4 separate regions of the Homo sapiens genome follow, and all the other regions are reported to be linked to region 4. Evidence: microRNA targets listed by miRTarBase, many of them from high-throughput screens and not tested one by one. Region 4 holds a microRNA gene; each other region holds the end of a gene's coding sequence.
The links. Region 4 holds the annotated microRNA hsa-miR-4638-5p (ACUCGGCUGCGGUGGACAAGU, at 1,835-1,855, shown strand). A microRNA usually pairs through its seed, bases 2 to 8, with sites in the 3' UTR of a target mRNA and lowers its output. Matches are read on the target gene's strand: a 7mer-m8 pairs with bases 2 to 8, a 7mer-A1 pairs with bases 2 to 7 and ends in A, and an 8mer does both.

Region 1 (7,134 bases), not on the chromosome of region 4:
CAAAGGCCACATCTTAAAGGAAAAGGAGCTTACTCTGGGGTTGGAAGAGGGATGTGAGCACTGAAAGGTCAGGTGTGGCTCGAGGGTGGTGAGCATGGCAGGGGGAAAGCAACTAGAAGTGAAGGTAGTGAGCCAGACCACGGGCCTGGTGGACGGTGGTTGGCCTCTATTCAGAGGGCACTGGGAGGATAGGACGACAAAGGATACTCTATGCGAGGAAGGTACCCTGGCTTATAGTTGGAAACAGCGTTTGGGAGGCAGCATGGACAAGAGTTGCTGATGGATTGGGAGGGGCGGCGCAGGATGAGTCCGGGTTTCTGGCTGGAGTAACAGGATGGAGGCTGGTGCCATTGCCGACTGGGGAAGATCAAGGGAAATCAGGAGTCTTGCTTTGGCCATGTGAAGTCTGGGATGACTGTGAGTGTTCAGGTCGCAACATAAGTGGTTAGATGGGAGGCTCTAGAGTTGGGAGGGGAGGCTCTGACCTTTGGTTTCCTCCTTTGCAAAAGGAAGCATCAGCAGAATTGATTTCACAGGGAGGGCTGCTTTAAGGACTCGATGAAATAAACCATATAAGGCACTCAGCAGCAGCCTGGCTCAAAGGCAATGCCCTGTAGGTGACGGTGACAGCTATTAATGCTGTCAGTCCTTGGACACGGCAGGTGAAAGGGGTGGCGAAAGAAGCAGTTTAAAGATTAGTCTGAAACCTCCTGTACAGCAGAATCCCAGATGATGCATGTAGGGATAATCAACACCTCACCCGAGTGTGGGCTGCACCAGCAACTTCCTTCCAAAGAGAACAGCATGGGAGCAGGTGTGTGGGACTTTACAGTGAGGAGCCCAGGTCAACCTCATCCATGATGTCATGTTGACGGCATGTGCCCTTCACAGGCTGCGCTGAGAAGGGCATTCACCTTTGAGGTCTTCCTCCCCACAACCTATAACCTCCATCCAGCCACGAGAAGAACATCAGACAATCCCCAACTGAGGGACATTCTACAAAATGCCTGACCAATACTCCTCAAAACTGTCAAGGTCATCAAAAATAGAGATCAAAAAGTCTAAGAAAATGTCACAGCCCAAAGGATCCTAAGAAGGCAGAATGGGCTGGATGTGTTGGTTCACGCCTGTAATCCTAGCACTTTGGGAGGCAAGGTAGGAGGATCGATAACTGAGGTCAGTTCAAGACCCTATCTCTACCAAAAAAAACGAAAGAAAACAAAACAAAACAAAGAGCCAGGTGTAATGACACATGCCTGTAGTCCCAGATACCCAGAAGGCTGAGGTAGGAGAATGGCTTGAGCCCAGGAGTTCCAGGCTGCAGTGAACTAGGTTGGCACCACTGCACTCCAGCCTGGGCAACAGAGCAAGACCTGGTCTCTAAAATCAACAACAAAAAAGAAGACAGAATGACCAAACGTAGTGTGGCATTCTGGGTGGGAGTCTGAAATGGAGAAAGGACATTAGGGAAAAACTAAGGACATGCATAAAATAGGGACATTTATTTATTTATTTGAGAAAGAGTCTCACTCTGTCGCCCAGGTTGGAGTGCAGTGGTGCAATCTTGGCTCACTGCAACCTACGCCTCCCGGGTTCAAGCGATTTTCTTGCCTCAGCCTCCCGAGTAGCTGCGATTACAGGTGCCCACCACGCCTGGCTAATTTTTGTATTTTTAGTAGAGATGGGGTTTCACCACATTGGCTAGGCTGGTCTTGAACTCCTGACCTCAGATGATCCACCTGCTTCAGCCTCCCCAAGTGCTGTGATTATGGGAGTGAACCACCGTGCCCGGCCAAAATAGGGACTTTAGTTAATAATCGTGCATCACGATTGACTCACTAGTTATGACAAATGCACATGAATGTAACATGTTAACAGTAAGGGAAACTGGCAGGGCGGTATATAGCCACTCTTTCTACTATTTTTGCAACTTTTCCATAAATCTAAAGGTATTCTAAAATAGTTTACTTAAAAATAAAACCAGTCTGGAGTTGGCGTGCAGGTTAGATAGAGGCTCTTCCACTTTCTGCATCAAAAAGCCTTTAGTCTCTGGCGGACCTTGGGCAGCTCTGCTCTGGTCCAGCCTTAACTCCTGGTGACTGGGCACAGCTGCTTCAGGGTCTGAGTCAGCACCTTCCACCTGAGTTGCCTTGTGCTCCAAACTGTCCCTACACAGCTGATTTCCTCTTCTTTGCCCGGGGTAGGAGTCTATCTTCTTACTTCTGAGCCTATGAGAAAACCCAGGTGTCTTTTGGGCTAAGGCATCAGTTAAAATGTCTTGAGTAGCACATCTGGATTTGGAACCCAATTCCAGCAGCAAGAGGGAACTTCATTCTGCAAACGAGTATTTATTGTGCACCTGTGATGGGCCAAGCAGTATTTTGGGTGCCAAGGATACAACAGGGAAAAACATTTCCTCTTTTCTTGGAGCTTGCATTCTTGTGGGAGAGACAAATGAATAATTAATGCCAAGGAGTGGGAAATATGAGTAAGAAAAAAAAAAAAGAGGGGTTGGAGAAGGGAAGGCCTCCTGAGGTGACATTTCAGCCAAGACCTGAATGATGGAGCAAGCCACACGGGCCTGAGGGCAGCAGCAGGATGGACAGGACCAAAGGTCCGTGCAAAGGCCCTGAGGCTGAGTGGTGTTTGAGGAATGTTGAGAGGCCAGTGAGGAGGGGAAGCGTAAGAGGAATTAAGATCCAGCAGCTCCTGGGAGATCAGACCATGTGGGCCCCTCACAGGTAAGGCTTCAGCTTACACACCTAGGTAGGTGGGACACTCTGCACAGTTTGGATCAGCAATCCAACACGATCTGCTCAGCTCTGAAAAATCTCTGGCTATTGAGTGGAGAACAGGCTACAGGGAGAAGAGGGTGGGAGCAGGGATAATTAGGAGCCTATTGCAATATCCAGACAAGAGATAATCGCAGTAGAGGAAGGGGCAAGGCACTGTCAGGATAAGCCTGGAGGATTTGCTCATGGATTAGATGGTGGGTACAAGAGAAACAGGAATCGAGGAGGATTCCCCAGTTTTCGGCCTCGGAACTGAAGAACCGAGTTTGCATTTACTAGGAGGGAAGTCTCCCCAGGGGAGCACATTTCACACCATGGGGCCGAGTGAGCTCCCTTTAGGGCTGAGTGTGGGGAGAGAGGAGGCTATATTAGAGGCTGGAGCCCCGAGTCCTCCAGGGTTTTGAGGCTGGGAAGCTGAGGACACCATAGCAAGGGAGGCCAAAAAGGAGAGGCCAGGGAGGTGAGAGGAGAGCACAGAGCTGTCCACAGGCCAGGTGGAAAGACTCAAGCGGGTGATTATTTGCATCCAATGCTACTGATAGGACTGGGCAACCCAGGTCACTGGCAACTGTGGAAAGGAAACTTTTGGTGGGATTGTGAGGAAAAAACTGGAAGGGAGTGGGCAGAAGTGGAGACGGGGAACACACACAGCTCTTTGGAAGAGTTTTGCTCTAAGGGGAGCAGAGACAAGGCATGGCAGCTGAAGAGAATCTGGAAGTCTCTGGTCTTTGATATTGAGCTATACCCACTTGGGATGCATGTAAGTGGGTGGAAAGTCCTGGCAGAGGGGAGAACCCGCAGTGCAGGAGAGAGGGCGACTGTAGGAGAAAAGCCCTCAAGGAGTGAAGAGGGATGGGCCCCGAGGATGGGAGCAGGGTGGGGCATTTATTGCCACAGAAGGGGAGGCTGAGGATATGGTGTCAGATGCAGACGGGCTGAGAGTTCACCCTTCACCCTCTCTCCTAGCTCTAAGCCAGAACCTAAGGGGGCCAGAAGCTGGGATCCAAGTCTACTTGTCCCACCCCCTCCACTGGAACTCCCTGGCCCCCAGCTCTGCACAGCTCCTGCCCTGCAGCCCTCGCCTGGCTGTGCTCCGGGAAGTCCTCGTGGGCACTTCACCCTGCTCTGCAGCCACACTCACACCCTAGATCCAGGTCACACTAGGTATGATTTGCTTCTCCTGGCCTTTCCTCTCACCAGCCCCGCTATCACCTCATTTAGAAGGCAGGTATGATTTTCATTTTCTAGGCTCAGAGAGTTTGCGCAGGGCCACACAGCTGGGTCCCCAAGCCTCTCTATGTGAGGTCGTCTGGGCACAGGGCTTGGGGAACCCAAGACTGAGGCCAGTGACAGCAAGCTCTGGATGGCCATCCACTCCTCTGGGGCTATACCTGTAGGGCAAGGATGCCAAGCGCTGCCTCTCCTGCAAGCCTTCACCTCTGGACACTTCTCTTTTTTGAGACAGAGTCTCATTCTGTCGTCCAGGCTGGAGTGCGGTGGCACGATCTCAGCTCACTGCAACCTCCGCCTCCCGGGTTCAAGTGATTCTCGTGCCTCAGCCTCCTGAGTAGCTGAGATTACAGGCACATACCACCACGCCCGGCAAAAATTTTTTTTTTTTTTTTGAGACGGAGTCTCGCTGTGTCGCCAGGCTGGAGTACAGTGGCGCGATCTCGGCTCACTGCAACCTCCACCTCCTGAGTTCAAGTGATTCTCCTGCCTCAGCCTCCTGAGTAGCTGGGATTACAGGCACGTGCCACCACACCCAGCTAATCTTTGTATTTTTAGTAGGGACGGGGTTTCACCATGTTGGCCAGGATGGTCTTAATCTCCTGACCTCATGATCCACCCACCTCAGCCTCCCAAAGTGCTGGGATTACAGGTGTGAGCCACCGCACCCAGCCAATTTTTTATATTTTTTAGTAGAGACGGGGTTTCGCCACATTGCCCAGGCTGGTCTCAAACTCCTGAGTTCGGGCAAAACGCCTGCCTTGGCCTCCCAAAGTGCTGGGATTACAGGCGTGAGCCACTGTGCCTGGCCACCTCTGGGCACTTCTTCATGGGGAAGGCACACACTTCTTCGTGTGTGCAGGCCTGTCTTGGAAGCTAGTGGAAAAACCGGGCACCCAGGGGACAGTGGCTACCACTGCTTTCCATCTCTAAGTCAAGGGCGGGCAGGAAAAGGAACTCCACAGATGTCCCTCAGCCCTATTCCCTCCACCTGCAGAGGCAAAGACCCCACTGGCTCGGACTTCACCAACCTGGAGCAGGGGAGAGAAGCTAAGTTCTGACCTTTGATCAGAAGATGGGGAAGCCACACTCAACACGTCACTGCCTTGGGAGGTGGATTTGGGGATGGTGGGTCCTGGGGAAAAACGGGCTTTTGGTGTGGAAATGACATCTTTCCTGTTTCCGACCTCTGCCTGCCTCATGCCAGGTGAGACACCTTCATGCCTGTTTCCATGATTGAGAACATGGGAGTACGCTTCTTTCCACCTACGTTCCTGGTGGATTTTCACTGGAGTTGGGCTGCACTGTGGAAAAGGGGTTGGGCAGCTCCTGTGGCACAGTGAGGGGGCATAGAAGCCCAAGGCAGTCGGTAAGAAATCACCAATTTATTGAATGAAAAACCCAACATCAACTCAGTCCCTCCCACCCCCATCTCCTCTCTCTGGCCCAGGAGACGCTCAGGACAGCAGGGCTGAGCCCTGGGAAGGGCTGGAGGAGAGCTTGGGGGAGGTATGGAGAATGAGAAAAACACTTTCAAAATGAAGTTCTGTGCAAAAACTTCTGGGAAGGAGTGAGAGGACAAGAGAAAAGCTCCAAAGGGGCTGTGGGGCGCAGATGGCCGGGCTGGGGGGTGCAGAGGGCTGGGCTGGGGCCCTGTGTCCTCAACCACTCCTGAGAACACGGACGGTCAGGAATGAGGGGCTCAGACCCCGGGTTGGTGAGAGGGAGGTGACAGGGAGGGAAGGAGCCTGCTGGAGGGAAACCTGGCTGGGAGGATGGGTCTGGGCCCAGGCTGGGGCCTAAGGAGGGGGAAGAACAGAGCAGGGAAAGGCAGAAAAACTGACACGGTGGGAGGAGGGAGATGAATGGGAGATGAAACAGAATGTCTGAGGGGCCACAGACAGCATGTATGGTGGTGGGGGTCTGCCTCCCATCTCTCCAAGTCCAGGCAGAGCTGTGCTGGGTGAGGGGCTGGGAGGCAGAGGCAGGAGCATCATTAACAAGGGTGGAAGCCACGAAGACAGCGACCAGTGCACAGGGTGTGTCACATGGTACAACCAAGAGACTTGGCGTGCAAAGAACCAAAGAAACACTCAGGACACACACGACATCTGCAGGGAACCTGGGGGTGGTGAGGAAGTCGTGCACGGGTGGTGGGGGGAGACTGGGAGGCCCCTCTGTCCTAGAAACGCTGTGTCACCATAGCAACAGGGTCCTGGAGGCAGGGGAGCTGCCTCCTGCCCCTGTGAGCTGTGAAGTAGGGGTCCTGTGGGCTCAGGGTGCCCCCTTACCCTCCCTTGAGAAGCTCTGGGGCAGGTGGAGAACCCCATAAGAGTTGAAAGTGGCCTTGGGTCCTGCTGGAGGCAGCAGAGTGAGTGGATCTGGCAGCTGCATCCTAGAGGACACCCTGGTGGCTGGAGGGGCTGGGGGAGGACTAGGCTCTCCTGCTGGGGACCAGGATTCCAGCTTTCTCATTTCCGAGAAGGAAACTGATACCACAAGGAAGAGTTTGGAAGTCGGGTGAAGGAAGGCCTGGGGGACTCAGTCCAGGGGACTATGGGCACCAGAAGGCAAAACCAACACGCCTTGGGCCTGGAGCAGGAGGGAGAAGGGGAAAAGCGGGAAGGAGGAGGGGCTGTGCAGGGGTGGGCTGGAGGGGAGGGGAGGGAAGGCGTCCCTGTGGCAGTGTCCTTCGGGACCTGGGCGAGTGAGAGGCAGACCCTGGTGCCAGGGAAGGGGTGCTGGGCCCGGGCCTGCTGGCCTCCCCCTGCCCGCAGGCGGTGAGGCTGGTGGCAGTGCCAGGAGGGAAAGTGGCTGGGAGACAGGGCCTCAGGTGGCCTTGCTGCCACTGAAGAGTCCCACTGGAAAGTGCTTGACATGGGTGGGCCACTGGGCTGCCAGCTGGAAGAACTTGATGTCACTCCACTCGACCCCATCGATGGACACTAGGGGTGACAGGAGAGGAGGGGTGACCAGACTGCTCAGGCCATCTCCCCAGGGCCCCTTGGGAAAGGCCATTGCCTGCCTCCCTCTCCAGTCCCTTTCTTGCCCTCCTCCCGGCCCTGCCTGCCCTCGCACCTCTCAGCATAGTCTGCTGCTGCTTGGCTGAGCA
Region 2 (7,551 bases), not on the chromosome of region 4:
CCTACTGAGGCTTGGGTTCCAGCTCAAGAGTTTGTATTTTTCAGTGAATTCTACTGTGTAGTCTATTTTCTGAACCATTTGTAGGTCAAAGAGATGTGAGAAGTATTGTTTATTTAACCTATAAGACTAAGAAATAATCTGAAAGGAGAAAGGACGCTAAGGAGTGGGGAAATGTTTCTTGGATAATGTAACTAAAGGATTAAGGCGTGTCTCTACATTTGTTAGGAAAAAATTAATAAACGTCTTACTTGCTCATTGTCATTTCCAGGGTGGGTTTTGTTGTTGTTAGATTGCTTTTTCCCATCGACATGTCTTGGTTCCTATCTTGCCAGCAGTTTTTTGGTTTGTTGTTTGTTTTTGCAGGACCGTCTCATTGCACTTGATGCTGCAGAAGAGTTCTTTAAGCTTGCTCGTCGAACTTACCCCAAGAAGCCTGGGGTTCCATGCCTGGCAGATGGCCAGAAAGAACTGCACTACCTTCCGTTTCCAAGTCCCTAAAGGAGAGGCTCAGGGGCAGAATGGGAATTCTTCCATGAGGACTCAGCAGTCAACCAAAGTTGGACAATTACATGTAGAAGAGAGTGAGCAAATAGAGTTTGCTTAGTGAAAAATGATACTGAATTCTACATAAATGTAAAGTCTTTAATCTGAGGACCCTGCCCCATGAATTGTGCAGGCTGCATTGAAACGCCTTGGTGATCTCATATTTAGGAAGAAAGTTAAAGAGTTGGTCAGATGGATAGTTCATAATGGGTGGTTCCATTCTGAGAGCCCATTGCCCCAGCTTTGGTTTTAGTTGTGTCATAATCTCTGATCATTAATCCTACTGACTGAGTGGACTATTTCAGTTAATAAAACAATATGATTAATAGAGAGAGCTGTCATTGAGTCCCAAAATGGATTGCCAGTTTTAAAATAATTATTATAAAATGTATGCTAACCCCAAAATAATACTAGGCATGAGGTGACCTCTCTGATTTGGTCACCTTGTAGAACCTTGGAGGGTGTCAGGGCATCTCTTTGAGTATCAGTTATGATTATTCAGAAGTATAGATGTATCAAATGATAGAAATGACAAGGAATGGCTGGGCGTGGTGGCTCATGCCTGTAATCCCAGCACTTTGGGAGGCCAAGGTGGGTGGATCATGAGGTCAGGAGTTCAAGACCAGCCTGACCAACATGGTGAAACCCTGTCTCTACTAAAAATACAAAAATTAGCCAGGTGTGATGGCACGCGCTTGTAATCCCAGCTACCCAGGAGGCTGAGGTAGGAGAATCGCTTGAGCCCGGGCAGTGGAGGTTACAGTGAGCCGAGATTGCACCATTGCACTCCAGCCTGGGCGACAGAGCGAGACTCCGTCTCAAAAAAAAAAAAAAAAAAAAAAAAAAAGAGTTATGTATTCATGTGTTGTACTTGCATTTTAAATTCCCAACATTATTGATATCTGGTTCTCTCATCTTTGTATATTGTCCATTTCTATTCCAAAAGCCTTTCGCTCTTTTTTTTTTTTTTTTTTTTTTTGATGGACTCTCGCTCTGTCGCCCAGGCTGGAGTACAGTGGTGCGATCTCGGCTCACTGCAACCTCCGCCTTCCGGTTTCAAGTGATTCCCCTGCCTCAGCCTCTGGAGTAGCTGGAACTACAGGCGCGTGCCACCACACCTGGCTAATTTTTTGTATTTTTAGTAGAGACGGGGTTTCACCATGTTAGCCACGATGGTCTCGATCTCCTGACCTCGTCATCCGCCTGCCCCAGCCTCCCAAAGTGCTGGGATTACAGGCGTGAGTCACCGCGCCCGGCCAAGCCCTTGGCATTTTATCTGGAATAGCATCTGTAAACTGAAGTGTTTGACCTCTGTTTTCTTCTCTCCTCTTTCATCTGTTTCTGATTCGTTGGCTGGCAGCTGCACCTGTGGGGGGACCTCTCATGCAGACTTGCACATATGCAGGGAGTATTGCACTGAAGATCTTTGCTGGACCTTCTTCTCTTCAGAAGATAATTTTCAAAAGGGAGCAATGCTGTGAATGCAGCTTGCTTCTCTCTACAGATTGAGAAGTCCAGCTTCAAAAGTTACTTGCCACTTAAGCAAGGAACTTGTCAAGAGATCATGGTTCATGTTACTGAAAAGACTTTAAGGATTTGTAAGGTTAATCCATAGATTGCTGAGAAAAATGGAAATATTTTTATTTTTACAGATTTTGCACTTCTGAATTCAGGTTAAAAACTAACTTGTATTTAGTCTGCTTAGAGGACTGTGACTTGAAAATTTTTATATACCAATGAGCTTTTTGGTAGCGTCCACAATGTTTAAAATATTTCATAGGCGAGATCCGTGTTCTCCATTTATTAATGCATTGTAGACCAATTTAACTGCTGTGTTTCAGGAAAATTCTTCCTAGTTTAATAAGCAAGCTAAAAGTTTTATTTTTTATATTTAGTGCTTAATCTTTGCCTCATGTTATGTAAAATTAGCCTGCAGATATTTTCTCTCAATTCTGTAGACTCTCGCAAGATAAACATTCAAACAGTGAAACAAACAATAAAATAAATAAACCTAAGGATGTCGTATTGTTTTACTCTCGGTCTCAGAATTTGTATTTTGCCTTTCTGCCTTTTTTATGTCAAAATAGATGAGATTGTGTGCATCTATAAATTGTTACCACAGTATTTTTGATAATGAATAAGGATAGGACTATCTCTGTGATTATTAAAATACATGGAATTATCCAGGAAATTTTCCTTACAAGGAATTAAAAGACTCCTGTATTTACTTTTCAGCTGGATGTGTGTTATATTTCTGACATAAGAAGGGATAGATATTCTTTCCATAATCCCTTTAAATTAAAGGGCAGAGAGGCTGAAACACTCATGGGTTTAAGGACCTCCCATCATCCTAAAGCCAGTCAAGGATTAGATGTGTGTTAAGTCCAGTGGACATGGCAGTGCATGAGAGGGGCGCAGGGGTGCCTCAGGTGGCCACTGTAGATGTCACAGTGTGCTCGGCAGGACCAGTAGCCACAGAAGTGTGGGAGGCCAGAGAGTTTCCCACTTTTTGTCTCCCTGTCGACTACTTTAGTACTCCTTTTTCATTTTTTTTTATATTCTTACTTTAGTACTTCTTAAAGGCTCATCTGTGTATGCAGGTTGATTTGGGGTGGTAGATGGATGGAAGTTTTTATATTAATATTTATTTTAAAATGCACCAGGAGAAAACCCTCTAACCAGTAGATCAAACACCTGGTTTTACAGTTCATGGATGTGTTGCACAGAATATTATTTATGCTTTCTTAAAGGCAAAGGGACACCCAAGAAGGCACAGAGGACACATGTACTAAAGGGATAAGGAATGCATTGGTGAGAGGGCACCAGCATCCCTGAGAAGCTCAGTGGCAGTTCTGAAGGCCAGATGCTGTTACAGAAGTGAGCTCACTGACAGCAATGGACATGGAAGAACAGAGGCCCAATGGCAGTGAGTCACTATCAGAAGACAAATGGATACAATTATCACAATGAGTGGCCAGGTTGAAGGATTCCTGCAGAGAGCTTTGGAGACAGTTAATGGAACATGCCATCTTTAGGAGCAAAATAAGTCTAAAATGAGTATTGCTCAAACGATACCTTCAAAAGACCTCAAGGATGGGTGATCAGGAGATAGGACACAGCCACCTTAATAAAAGGTTATAATCTTTTGCCAAATTTTCAGACCTTTGTTATTTTCCAAATGCAGAAACTGCTGATTGAAGGAAAGTCTAGGTCTCCAAGAAGGTCTTTGTAAAACCACTGCAAGTGTGTATGGCAATGATGTCCCTATGGTTATTTACTTGGATAACTGTACACTGGGGAAGGGGAGTACATGAATAATCTGAGGGCGCTGAGACACAAGGTCCAAGCTGACAGTGATACTTCAGGACCAGAGTATCACTACAGTCCACCTTTTGGAGTGAGGGGCATATGGGATTCAGGTAATAAATGGAGTTCTTTTCCAGGTATTACTTAACACTAGGTCCACTGAATTCATGGCTCTACCCAATGGTAGTCTGCCTGTCGACTACTACTTTCAGAATAATCATCCCCCTACTTAGACTCCCTGTCCCTGTCATCTCCTTACTTTCAGAATAAATAATCAGACTGAACATACTTGGGAGTTGACAGAACCGCCATTCCTTTCTTGGCTTGTGTGTTAGAATTTTCTTAAAGGGAAAGCCATGTGGAAGCGGGAATGTTGAGCCTTATCATAATTCCATTTAATTCACCACTCTGACCTCTGTAAAAACCAGACACTGGAGAATGAAAGTGGACTATTGAAAACTCAGCCAAGTAGTAACCGTAACTGCAGCGTCTGTACCAGATGTGAAACCTTGGCTAGAATAGACTAAGACAAGGTCAGCTACATGGTTTGTGGCCACTGATCTGTCAAATGTTTTCTTCCCCCACCCATCAGAATGGTAGATCAAAAACTGTATTCCCTTGAGATAGAAAATATTTATGATGGACACACACACACGCGCGCACACACACAACACACATACACTTACATTGCTCCAGAGTTCCCTATTAGGTTGGCTGAGGCTTTTGTTGTGACTGCATCTTAGTAAAATCTCTCCCTTTCCCCAAGCCTGTCTTCCTTCTCTCCTCCACAGGAATTTGCTAATAGACTTCTTTCATGCCAATCTCCATTTCAAAATAATTTCCCTCAGGGAACCCAACTGTGACAGTATCTGAGTTGCCAATACAATCACTATCACATATTTTCCAATGTGATGGTTTTTCAAGACCATCATCAAGTGTCCTTTCTTTAGTGAAGACATTAAATGTTAAGTTTCCCTAGGAGTTATCCGACTAATGGCAGTAACTTTTGGAAAAGAACTGCAGTGGTAGCAGCAGAAACCAATTTATCTGACTATTTTCCAATGCCCAGAGAGGGATCATGGCACAACCCTGGCTTCCTTTCCATTGAATTAATGTATTTATTCATTTCCTCGGATCACTTTCTATTACTAATATCACAAGAAATATTTTGCAGTGAAGGGAGTATACTCTCATAACTTCTAAATCACAACTACGTACAGGATGAAAATGGGTAGCCACTTTGAACTTGCTATTTACAATGTTTCAGCAAGTGTTATTAACTTCTAGAATATTCTTCCATCTTCTGTTTTGACACACTATGGATGGACATTTGGGTATCCAGTTTTCAAGTCACTTAAACATATGGATTTAGAACACTGGGTTGTGGAGAACTAAGTCAGGCAACCAGATTTTAGCTTGAGTCTCATCATTTAATCACTTATTAGCTATAGCGGATTTATTTGATATTGTTTCTCACCTATGTTCTAAGTATTTAAAGATAATAAATTTGGAGAGAATAGAATTAGAAATACAGAAATAAAATAATGACATAATAGCTAGAGGAAGCTTAGGCCTATAGATCATTACTTTTTAAAAAAACATCTGTAGTTTTTATGCAGCAATTTATTTTAAACATTTTTAAACATGTAGTGTGAATTATGCATATGTGTAACTGAACTTTATCATATATTCTAGAGACATATAGTTAGCATTTGAAGTATCTTAATCAGGAATCCACTTTCTAGAGATGGTTGCTTAATCATTTCAATTATCTTCATCAAAATTTGTATCCGAAAGTTTATTAAGCTGTGTAAATGATACTAGGAATACTTTTCTGTCTGGTTTCCATCACCTTTTTTAGGAAGAAGATACTAAAAATCTGTCAAACCCAGCAGTACTCAAGGCCTAGAGCTCCATTTGTTTTTTATCTGCCTACTTCACACACCTGACGATATGTTGTCGGATCTTATTATTGGAATATTGTTGTGTCTGCCTAAGAATGAAACTTTCACTGCCATTTTTATTTCAATATTTGTGGCTGAGAACAGAAAGGAGGACTTATTTGGGATTACAGGAAGCAAAGGTAGAATTTCTGGCCAATAACAATTGTACGTTTAGAAGAATTTGGGGCAACACTTGCTTTCATTGTAACACGCCACCTGGTCACAAGATTATGGGGAAATAAATATATCGTCTTCACTTTATTTTTTTTGTTGCTGGAGATTATTGGTATTTACTAAAAGACTGGACATTTACTGAGAGGTCACATTGGCTCAGGTTTCTAATTTCTAATTTCTAACCCATTTTCCAAATAAAAGAGAAGTGCAGAAAATTAAAAAAAAAATCAACTATAATATCAGAACTGTAAGACAACCAAGCATTCGTAGCAATTTGGGATATTTCATTCTTTTTTATGTGCATATTTAAAATTTATATGTATAATAATAATTTTTTTTTTTTTTGAGATGAAGTCTCGCTCTGTCGCCAAGGGTAGAGTGCAGTGGCGCAATCTTGGCTCACTGCAACCTCTGCCTCCCGGGTTCAAGCAATTCTCCTGCCTCAGCCTCTCAAGTAGTTGGGATTACAGGCACCTGCCACCACGGCTGGTTAATTTTTGTATTTTCAGTAGAGACGGGGTTTCACCATGTTGGCCAGGCTGGTCTCAAACTCCTGACCTCAGGTGATCCGCCCACCTCAGCCTCCCAAAGTGCTGGGATTACAGGTAAGAGCCACGTGCCTGGCCTATATGTATAATTTTAAACCCTGATTTTTAAATTTAGGTCAGGGATTATGAACTCAAATGCTTCCACGAGCCATTGGATTGGGACTGTAGATCAAAGGGGGTTATATATTTTTTGTCCTAAAGGGAAGAGTTACTACTCAGCTGCAAATAATTGTCATGTACGAGGGCTCAGTTTTGCCAGTTATTCTGATTTTTTGAGTAGAGCCAAACAAACATATTTTTGTGTAAATTTTCTCAGTATGGAAATGTTCACTAAATTAAAATTTTAAAAACATTGCATAAGCCAAAGATATATATATATATGTGTGTGTATATATATGATCTGGTAGTTTACCACATTTCACAAGTCATAAACATTTTATGTTACTAAATAGCCTCTGAGAACATCATTTTTACAAAGCTATATAATATTTGAGTAGATGTAACAAAGTTTACAATCTTTCATCTATTTCTGGACTTTTAGAGGCTGTTTCCAATTTTTCTCTGCAGTGAACATCTTCATGCATATTGCTTTGTCCTGTGTTCTTAGTGAAATTGCAGAATCAAAGGTCATGAATATATAAATCATTCTTTATGCTTATCATTACATATTTTCCAAAAGACCTGTACAAATTTATGCTATCACTTACCAGTGATGTATGAGAATATAGTTTCACTATATCTTTGTCATCACAGAAAAATACACTAGTAAAAAAATTGGTAAGAAAAAAATTGGTACCTCCTTGTTGATTTAATTTGCATGTTTATTAGTTAGGTTGAACATTATTCCATATGCTTGTTTACCATTTTTATTTCTTTTGTGACTTGTCTATTTGTTTTCATTGTCCCTTGTCTGTGGGGGAGAAACTCTACTTTGAAATTTTAAGAATGTCAATCTATGCAGCAGCCAGGTATAAATAAACATCAACACCTGCTTCATGTTTAAAACATCTGTTTTATGGGGCTTTTCTGTTCTCTAC
Region 3 (7,279 bases), not on the chromosome of region 4:
GGGTGCAGTAAGCCGAGATCATGCCACCACACTCCAGCCTGGTCCACAGAGCGAGACTCTGTGTCAAACAAACAAACAAACAAGCAACAGAGGAAGACATGTGCTGACCGGCAGCCCCCTTTGTCTCTCTCTTCCCAACAGGGGCCAACTCCAGCTTGACCGGCAGCGGGGGGCCGCTGTTATGGGAGACTCAGCTGGGCCTGGCCTTCCTGAGGGGCCTCAGCTACCACGATGGGGCCCTTGTGGTCACCAAAGCTGGCTACTACTACATCTACTCCAAGGTGCAGCTGGGCGGTGTGGGCTGCCCGCTGGGCCTGGCCAGCACCATCACCCACGGCCTCTACAAGCGCACACCCCGCTACCCCGAGGAGCTGGAGCTGTTGGTCAGCCAGCAGTCACCCTGCGGACGGGCCACCAGCAGCTCCCGGGTCTGGTGGGACAGCAGCTTCCTGGGTGGTGTGGTACACCTGGAGGCTGGGGAGAAGGTGGTCGTCCGTGTGCTGGATGAACGCCTGGTTCGACTGCGTGATGGTACCCGGTCTTACTTCGGGGCTTTCATGGTGTGAAGGAAGGAGCGTGGTGCATTGGACATGGGTCTGACACGTGGAGAACTCAGAGGGTGCCTCAGGGGAAAGAAAACTCACGAAGCAGAGGCTGGGCGTGGTGGCTCTCGCCTGTAATCCCAGCACTTTGGGAGGCCAAGGCAGGCGGATCACCTGAGGTCAGGAGTTCGAGACCAGCCTGGCTAACATGGCAAAACCCCATCTCTACTAAAAATACAAAAATTAGCCGGACGTGGTGGTGCCTGCCTGTAATCCAGCTACTCAGGAGGCTGAGGCAGGATAATTTTGCTTAAACCCGGGAGGCGGAGGTTGCAGTGAGCCGAGATCACACCACTGCACTCCAACCTGGGAAACGCAGTGAGACTGTGCCTCAAAAAAAAGAAAGGAAGAAAAAAGAAAACTCAGGAAACAGATCTTGGGGGACACTCCAGGGAACCCAAAACTCAAAGGCGGAGAGCTCAGTGGGCACCACCAAGGCGAGATGAAGCCCCAGCAGGCACCTTCAGAAGACCCACGTAGACTGCAGACCCTGCCACGGACAATACTAAGGACAAAAACCCAGAGACTTGGGGTCTGTGGGCCCCCAAACATGGGGTAAAGTTGATTTGCCTGATATTCAGGAAGAAGGGGTGAGGGGTGGGTATTTATGCTTTTGATTCAGAAGAAAGTGGGGCTTGGGATTCCAGGGACTTGGCTGGGGGTGGGAAACTTCATCCACTTCCCTACTCTCATCATGAGTACGGACAGGGTGGGCGGGAGACTGATCATCGGGACTCATCATGAAGAGCCCAGCCCCACCCCACATACTCAGATCCCACCCACAGACTGGTGGCCACACCTCAGCCTGGTCACAAAGAGTTACACTCAGATACATGAGCACGGCAGCGTGCTCATAACTGTTTAACAACCAGCTGTCCTGGGAGGGGGACAGCTTTGTAATGTTTGCCAATTTCCATGGTGTAAATGCTACCACCATGGCTGATTTCATCACTGCCAAGCATAGACATCCCTAATAGGACACCACGGATCTGTCCCCGGCATCCGGCCCAGGGCCTGGCACAAAGCATGCTCTAGGGAAATGCTTGCTGATTGAAAGGAAGGAAGAATGACTCTACAGTCACACCTATGGCATCCCACAAAATCTGTCACATGGCTGCATAATCTCAGCCACTCTTTCACAACTATAGACTCATACACGCGAAGTGCCAGATTCATGCACAACCACACAATCACATGGAAGTCACAGACGGCATCACAGACAGTCACAGCACTGTGTGTATGTTATAACACAAGCACACAAAACTCAGACAGCATCCCAGCTACACAGCCACTCCCAGAGGTGTCACCGTCACACTTGGTAATTAATACTCATTACATTAGACACAGACAGACCAAGTTATAGTCAGACCTGGTTACACACATACACACACACAATATCACCATGACAAATACACATTACACACACACAACATCACAATGACAAACACACATTACACACACAACATCACGATGACAAACACACATTACACACACAACATCACGATGACAAACACACATTACACACACATCACAATGACAAACACAACATTACACACACACAACATCACAATGACACACACATCACACACACATCACAATGACAAACACACAACATTACACACATATACACACAGCCTGAGGGCCCTCCCCAGCCCAGACTAACACATCTCGGGGTGAGGACCAGACCTTGTTCATAACCCTGGGCCTCTTAACCACTGATCTTTGAAATAAATGGCAAATAGTTGTACCTGGATCTGTCTAGTTCTTAGGGGAACAAACTGAAGAAGGGTGGAGAGGAATTGTCAGGCCTAAAGAGCCCCACAGGGAAAGGGAGGAGTCGGATGGGGGGCAACCATCAGCAACAAGTGGTGGCTCCTAGAGGCAGAGGGATGGAGGTAATGACCCATGGAGGTCATTCTACAGATGAGGAACCTGGACCCAGTTGGCTCAAGTCCATGCAGGAAATGTGGGGGAAACCAGAGACCTCACGTCTGGATCTGGCTTCCTCTCCAATCCACAATTCCTGAGGAAGTAGAGGCTACATCCCGCAAGACGCCCTTATTAGACACATCCAGGACAGAATGACAATCCGCCAAGCCAGCTGGAAGCATAAAACACAGGGAGCTGGTGGGTTGGGTGGGGGCAGATAATGATATGCATACAAATTAGAGGGTCTATGCAAATGAGCATTGCTGCAGTGTGGCTGGAGGGAATCCTTAGTTCCTAGGATTCTAGGATATGGGTTTCGACCCCAGAGGTGAATGTATTGTTATTATTGTTTTGTTGTTGTTGTGAATGACAAGTCAAAATTTGTGGGTTATTGTTGTTATCGCCAATAGTATTCTTGTCATTGTTGCACAGTACAGAGATGAAGGAAACAGATTTTGCAATCAGATGATCCTGGGTTCTGAGTCCACTCTGCCACTCACCAGCTATATGACCTCCAGCAATTTCCATCACCTCTCAATGCTTCAGTTTCCCCATCGGCAAGATGGTTGTGGGGGGAGAGGAACAACAGTACAGATTCACCATCCCAAATTCAAAATGCTCCAAAATCTAGGCCGGGCGTGGTGGCTCATACCTGTAATCCCAGCACTTTGGGAGGTCAAAGTGGACGGATAACCTGAGGTCAGGAGCTCCAGACCAGCCTGGCCAACATGGCGAAACCCCATCTCTACTAAAAATACAAAAAATTACCTGGGTGTGGTGGGGGGCACCTGTAACCCCAGCTACTCGGGAGGCTGAGGCAGGAACCCTGGAGGTTGAGGTTGCAGTGAGCTGAGATCACACCACTGCACTCCAGCCTGGGTGACAGAGCAAGGCTCCCATCTCAAAAAACAAAAAAACATGCTCCAAAATCTGAAACTCTTTGAGCCCCAGTGTGATGCCACAAGTGGGAAATTCCACAACTCATCACATGTGATAGATTGCAGTGGAAATGCAGGCACACACCACGAAGTTTACTCAGCATCCTCAAAGGAAATCCCCGTCAGTAGCTATATATCATTTTCTCACATGCCAGATAGGTATCTCTCATCTTTTACTGTTAGGTACTTCTGTGTTGAATAGGTGGAGGAAAATGATTGCTGGTTAGTAGTATATAAATTCAGAGTCAGGAAGGATGGTGATGTCGGCTGGGTGCAGTGGCTCATGCCTGTAATTCCAATGTGATACCCTACCTTGTGTTTAACGTGATTGACTCTCCCTTAGCTGAGAGGGCCAGGCAGACTCTATTTTGGCTTCTTCGCTTGCAGTCTCTCACCCACCCCCCTTCCTCAAGGACTTAAGCTGACTCCCAGCACATCCAAGAATGCGATTACTGATAAGATACTGTGACAAGCTATATCCACAATTCCCAGGAATTCGTCCGGTTGATAGCACCCAAAGCCCCCGCGTCTATCACCTTGTGATAGATTTAAAGCCCCTGCACCTGGAACTGTTTGTTTTTCTGTTACCATTTATCTTTTTCACTTTCTTGCCTGTTTTGCTTCTGTAAAATTGCTTCAGCTCGGCTCCCTCTTCCCCTTCTAAACCAAGGTATAAAAAGAAACCTAGCCCCTTCTTTGGGGTGGAGAGAATTTTGAGCGCTAGCCGTCTCTCAGTCGCCGGCTAATAAAGGACTCCTGAATTAGTCTAAGAGTGTGGCATTTCTCTATAACTCACTCAGTTACAACATTTGGAGGCCACAGCGAGATCCGCCACCGGGTGAAATCTGGACCCGTTCCGGGCTCCCCTGGACAGACGGCGAGCTTATAGGGGAGGCGCCACCTAAAGACGTTCCAGGGACGTGTAGGCCACCGTCTTCCAGAGGGGAACGGATCGGCTGCCGGTGTCCTCAACCAAATTCAACTCCTGAGTCCTCAGTGTCTGGTCCCGGGAAGGTAAGTCAGATTTGACTCTGTTTCTCTGGGAGGGAGGTGGCCCTGATGAGGGCGTCCCTCTGACTCTGTCCATATTCCAGGACGCTGGAGGACAGAGTCCTGGTTTCTGTCTGACTCTGTTTCTCTGGGAGGGAAGCGGCTCTGATGAGGGCATCCCTCTGACTCTGTCCAAATTCCAGGATGCTGGAGGACAGAGTCCTGGTTTCTGTCAGGCATCTCTGTAAGACTAGTCTCTTTCTTTCTCTCTCTCTCTATCTCTTCTCCTCTCGTTGAGGTCTCAAGGAGACCTCTGTTTTAAAACGGGTATTGAAGAATTGTAATAAACTCTGTGTGAGTGAGTGAGTGAATGTGGAGGTCAAGGGCTCGCGCTTGAATTTTCAGTTTGTAGCTCCACGGCAAAAGCTACAGAGTTCGAGTGGGCCCTCACCTGTGGTTCCGTGGTGACCTCATAAGGCTTAGGGCAGCATTGAGCATAGCTGGATCTGAACGGGCGTTTATACCGGCCTGCCAAAGCTAAGAGGAGCCTGAGTCCTCACAAGGGGAGTGGCCAGGCGGGCATCTGACTGATCCCATCACGGGACCCCCACCCCTTGTCTGTCTATAAAAATTGTCATAATTGTCTATATACCCTAGTGTCTATTGTCCTGTTTAGTGTCTATTGTCCTGTTTGGTGTCTGTCTAAATTTCATGGGTCAGGTCACCCATATTGCCCAAGACGACTGGGCAAGGACTTCTTCAAAGTCCTTTAGTGCAGATTTTCTATTACAGGGGGTCTCAGGCGTGTCTCTTCGGGTTGCCAGGCCCAGGGGCCACTCCTCCGCCAGTTTACAAACGAAACAGCCTCCTTCCCCCACAGCAGGGGCTCCCCAACCCACGGATGAGGAGTGGGAGGTGACGGTGCTGGACCCTCTCCCCCAGGGACCCCCGCTCCTGCGCCTTCAGGCGTCAAAGACCCTGACTTCCCCGACTACCGGCGCGTCCGCACCCGGCTCAGAACGCAGGGGCCCGGACTGCTGCGGTGACCTTGGTCCCGGGCCCGGGCTTCTGAGCTGGGCTTGCAGCGCCTGACGGGGCCTGGAGGCGGGGCGGGGGGACTGCGGAGTAGTCCTGGCGACCCAGCGCTGCCCAGCACGGCTCCTCCCAGCCTGAGAAGATCCGAGTGGCCCCTTTTCCTCCTCATCCCCATCCCTTACCCCGCACATCTACCTCTGTTCTTCCGATACTGCAGCCCTCTAGGCCGTGAATTTCTCTGTCCGTGCTGGGTTTTATATTTCTGCTTAAACCTTGTTAATTGCCTCCAGAATGGGAAACTCTTCTTCCCAGCCCTGTAGAGATTGGAGCCCTCTCCAACGCATGTTACAAAATTTCTCGGCCGGGCGCGGTGACTCACGCCTGTCATCCCAGCACTTTGGGAGGCCGAGGTGGGTGAATCACGAGGTCAGGAGATCGAGACCATCCTGGCTAACACAGGGAAACCCCGTCTCTACTAAAAATACAAAACAATTAGCCGGGCGTGGTGGCAGGTGCCTGTAGTCCCAGCTACTCGGGAGGCTGAGGCAGGAGAATGGTGTGAACCCAGGAGGCGGAGGTTGCAGTGAGCCGAGATCGCTCCACTGCACTCCAGCCTGGGTGACAGAGCGAGACTCCGTCTCAAAAAAAAAAAAAAAGTTCCAGAAGGAAGGACTCACTCCTGCCTGGAAAGGACCTCATACTGTCATCCTCACCATGCCGACAGATCTGAAAGTGGACAGCATTCCTGCTTGGGTTCATCACTCTCACATCAAAAAGGCCAACAAAGTCCAGCAAGACCCCAAGCAAGACCCCAGCACAGACCCCAAGCCTGGGTCGGGCCCCTTAAAACTGCACCTAAGTCGAGTGAAGCCATTGGATTAATTCTTTTTATTTACCTCTTTTGTTTGTTTCCACCTGTCATGCCCTCTGCTCCTTCCTACTCTTTTCTCCTTACTTCTTTCACGACAGGACGTGTGTTTGCAATCACCACCTGGAAGGCGGGGACCTCCAAGGAAGTCTCTTTTGCAGTCGATTTATGTGCTTTGTTCCCAGAGCCTGCCCTCACCCGTGAAGAGCAACGCAATCTGCCGGTCATGGGAACAGGGAACGTCGACCTTGCAGCAGGGTTTGGACACATAGGAAGCCGGACTGCATGTGGAAGCTCTAAAGGTGCAGAAAAAGGACTCCAGGAGGCTGACTTTTACCTCTGTCTTGGAAATCACCCTGACTGAAGTTGTCAAGATTCTTATCAGTTTTTCTGCCCTCGCTGGTCCTGTGTAACCCTAGCCACTTACCCTGGAGGATCAACCCAGTCCTCAACCCTCTCCATAACTCGCACTTCCCATCCTAGACTGTGTACTATGAGAAATTGCAACCCTCTTCCTACAACTATCCATAACCCTGGTACAGCTCAATGGTATTATGGCATGTCATGGGGATTAAGGCTTTATATCTCAGGATTTAATGTTGGAACTATGTTCACCATCCAGAAAAAAATCCTGGTCCCATAGAGCTCTCCTAAGCCAATCGGACCTTTAACTGATTTAGGTAATCCTATGTTCCCAAAACACCCAGACAGGGTCGATTTAACTTTCCCACCGCCGTTCCTGGTTTCTAAACCTCAGCTGCAACGGCAACACCTCCAACCCAGCCTGATGTCCATTCTGGACAGGGTACAGCACCTCCTTAATCTCACCCGGCCTCAACTAGCCCGAGATTGTTGGTTGTGCCTGAAGGCCAAACCCCCATATGATGTTGGATTAGGAGTAGAAGCTATGCTTAAAA
Region 4 (3,000 bases):
ACTTCCTCCTCGTCCTCCTCATCCTCCCCCCTCAGGTCCTCCTCCTCCATGTCCCCCAAGTAGTAGTCCAGGTCTTCCTCCTCGTCCTCCTCCTCCCACACATAGTCCATGTTGTCCCAGCTGGACCTGCTCATGCCACTGGTCCAGAACACACCCTCTTCTTCCTCCTCGACCTCCTCCTCCATGTCACCCTCGTAGTCTTCATCCCGCATGGGGGTGTCCCACCCCGCGCCAGCCCCCACAGCCTCCACTTCCTCCTCCTCTCCGTCCTCCTCCTCCTCCTCCCGATCTAACTCATCTCTGTCCTCCTCATCCTCCCCACCCCACAACTGGGTTACACAAACTCGGCAGAAGTTGTGCCCGCAGCCGATGGACACGGGGTCCGTGAAGTAATCGAGGCAGATGGCGCACACCGCCTCCTCCTGAAGGGTCTGCACAGGGTTGGGTGTCATGGCAACGGCAGCCATCTTAGTGTCCAGCCAGCCAGTGTAGAGGTTCGGTGGGGGGGCGAGGGGCGGGGGTCTTCCCTACCGACGCCCTGGCGACCCGGCTCCACCCCCAGCCCTGCCCCTCCACACCTCGCCCCAAGAGCAGCCAGAGAGATGTCCTGCCGACAACCCACCCCAACACAGTGTTCCCTACTCCCAAACGACAACCGTGTCTCTACGAGGGGAGGGGACAGTGCTGGGCGCCACCGCCAAGTCCCTCAGGTGGCTCTGAGTACAAGTCTGCCCCAATGCTCCCTTGGACTCCTCATAAACCCCCGCCCCTCCTCACTTCCTGGCCCCGCCCCTAGCTTCCGGCCTCCTTCCCAACACTTCCGGCGTCTACACACCACCTAAGCTCGCGACTTCCCTCCGCTGTCCTGCTACTCCCCCTTTTTCCCCGCGGGGCCCCAGGGCGACAGGAAATGGCGAGGAGACGCTCTAGTCCGCACTAGAGAACAGGGCGGGAGGGCTAGGACGGTGGAGGCCCGCGTCTCTGTGGTAAGAGGCCGCGGGGAACGCAGAAAGAACAGAGGAACCGCCTACCCCCATCCCCCGCCGCTGGGGAGAAACTTCGGGGGGTAGGGGGAGCGCCTGGCGGCCGTCTGCTTTCGGTGCTATCACCGCATCGGCCAGACGCCATCCTACCCTCCCGGCACAGCCGACTGCAGCCGGTACTCCCCACAGCCGATGCCGGAAGCGAGGGGGTGGGTCCGCGGCGCGCCCTGAAGTACTTCCGGCCCTTCTAGGCAGACGACTTCGTTGTGGAGGACTCAGAGGGTCGTCCGGGTCGGACCGGGGGCGGGGCCTGAGAAAGCGCTTCGCGGGTTAGGGCAGCAGACGCCCCACCCTTCCCCAACTGTAGTCGGCGTTTCGCATCCGAGGTAGAAACTGCCAACCGGACACTGTCTCATGGTTTAGATGAACTTCCCTAACTGCCCAGCAGTGAAGAAGTGGTGACGAATCATTACATCTACATTCTCACAGCATCTCTGCAAAAATAGATGCTTTGTGCGGTAGAAATAATACTTGATGCTTAAATAGCTCTTTAAATTTTATTTTTATAGAGATTTGATGTCGATACATAAATAAATAAATGTTGTTTGATGCGAGAAAAATGACGGGGCCATGATTTATGTACAGAATCTCCAGTGAGTGCCAGACACAGCGTGACGCCAGGGCTGGGCCTGCAGAACTTACCCTGCTCTCAAGGCGGCTCGCGGGAAAACTCCAGATGGACGTCGCGCTTCCTAGGGGGGTGGTCAGGCCTCTGAGTATGTCAGATCAAACGCGCCAAAAACCACGAACCCTCGTGGGTGAACTATGCTAGGCCATTACAGGACCTGCGGACTCGGCTGCGGTGGACAAGTCCGGCTCCAGAACCTGGACACCGCTCAGCCGGCCGCGGCAGGGGTCCCCGGGCCTGTCCTACAAGGGCGCTTGCCTAGAGCTATCCCGGCCGTCTCAGCCGTGTGTGTCTTCAGGACGATGCCGGCAGGAAAGTAGCCAAGGTGGTTTCCGTAGTGTAGTGGTTATCACGTTCGCCTCACACGCGAAAGGTCCCCGGTTCGAAACCGGGCGGAAACACGTTTTGGTCTGTTCGGGAGATTCTCTCCCGAGGCCGGCCTTACGTGGCAGGAAGGACATGTGTGTCCCTGCGCTTCGGAGGAACACGGACTGGGGCAAAACTGAAGGAGAGCACTACTCAAGTAAATTCAGGTCTCGCCCCTCACCTAATCTCTTGCTCTTCCCTTCTGAAGCCTATGCAGCCATCACATGTACAGGAATCCGTAGATTTCAGATCCTCGGCTCTAGTGCCTAGAACAGAGCCAGGCGCAGGCGCTTCTTAGTATTTGCACAGTGGAAACGTGCTTACACCTCTGAGGGTAACCTCCATCTTCAGAGACAAAGTTAGAATACAGACATGGCCGCCCGGCTAGCTCAGTCGGTAGAGCATGAGACTCTTAATCTCAGGGTCGTGGGTTCGAGCCCCACGTTGGGCGTAATTTCGCTTTTTGGAAAGGTTAAGGCAAGTTGTGTTACCTAAGTGCACAAATGGTATTCTCTGTACCAAGACCTAGTGGGTAGCAGATTCACCAACAGTGGGTGTTAGAACTTGGACTAACCTGGTGTTCTCCGATCCGTGTGTGGAAGGCCCCGAGCAGAATTCTCACAACGTTTGCACCCTCGCTAACTCTCAAAGAAAGAATGAGAGGCGGGTACCTGTGGACCAATTCCTGCAGGCCAGCACCGCGGGCTATCGTGCATGCATGACCCTTTGCTGTAGGCCACTCGCCCACGGGCAGCACATATTAGGCATTTTATGTTTACCAGACGGCCTGCCCCCGTCTTGCTGTGAGACTTGCTGTGCTGGAGGGAACAATGTGGTTTATCGAAACTGGGGTGAGACCGCAGGACGACCCCAGGCGTTCGTGAGCGTCAAAACCTATCTGATTCACTCCCACTTTACTGGGAGATTTAGTGGTTAGGCTTCCGCCTTTGTCTCGCTACGACC

Region 1: the mRNA of PACS1 is a reported target of hsa-miR-4638-5p. The part of its 3' UTR that is shown has no 7-base or 8-base seed match.
Region 2: the mRNA of MREG is a reported target of hsa-miR-4638-5p. Seed matches in the 3' UTR shown: 8mer at 1,309-1,316.
Region 3: miRTarBase lists TNFSF14 as a target of hsa-miR-4638-5p. Seed matches in the 3' UTR shown: 8mer at 881-888.

Annotation. Positions count from the first base shown.
Region 1 is chr11:66,242,998-66,250,131 of GRCh38, reverse strand. PACS1 (phosphofurin acidic cluster sorting protein 1) reads right to left here. Exons shown (of 24, transcript NM_018026.4): 23 at 7,101-7,134; 24 at 5,388-6,967. The coding sequence ends at 6,852. It overlaps LOC124902694, which reads left to right. Exons shown (of 3, transcript XR_007062737.1): 2 at 3,759-3,956; 3 at 5,020-5,422. It also overlaps a transcript of KLC2 not described here. Among named protein-coding and RNA genes, the nearest start is that of KLC2, 11 kb to the left of the region's middle.
Region 2 is chr2:215,937,810-215,945,360 of GRCh38, reverse strand. It overlaps MREG (melanoregulin), which reads left to right. Exons shown (of 5, transcript NM_018000.3): 5 at 364-2,777. The coding sequence ends at 498. Among named protein-coding and RNA genes, the nearest start is that of MREG, 72 kb to the left of the region's middle.
Region 3 is chr19:6,658,213-6,665,491 of GRCh38, reverse strand. TNFSF14 (TNF superfamily member 14) reads left to right here. Exons shown (of 4, transcript NM_001376887.1): 4 at 142-4,239. The coding sequence ends at 566. Among named protein-coding and RNA genes, the nearest start is that of TNFSF14, 8.3 kb to the left of the region's middle.
Region 4 is chr5:181,221,467-181,224,466 of GRCh38, reverse strand. It overlaps MIR4638 (microRNA 4638), which reads left to right and starts at 1,834; the gene lies at 1,834-1,901. It overlaps TRIM41 (tripartite motif containing 41), which reads right to left and starts at 1,186. Exons shown (of 6, transcript NM_033549.5): 1 at 1-1,186. The coding sequence starts at 467. It overlaps TRK-CTT2-3 (tRNA-Lys (anticodon CTT) 2-3), which reads left to right and starts at 2,416; the gene lies at 2,416-2,488. TRV-CAC1-5 (tRNA-Val (anticodon CAC) 1-5) reads left to right here and starts at 2,000; the gene lies at 2,000-2,072. RefSeq lists enhancers at 1-290, 958-1,187 and silencers at 438-647, 1,918-2,147, 2,398-2,607.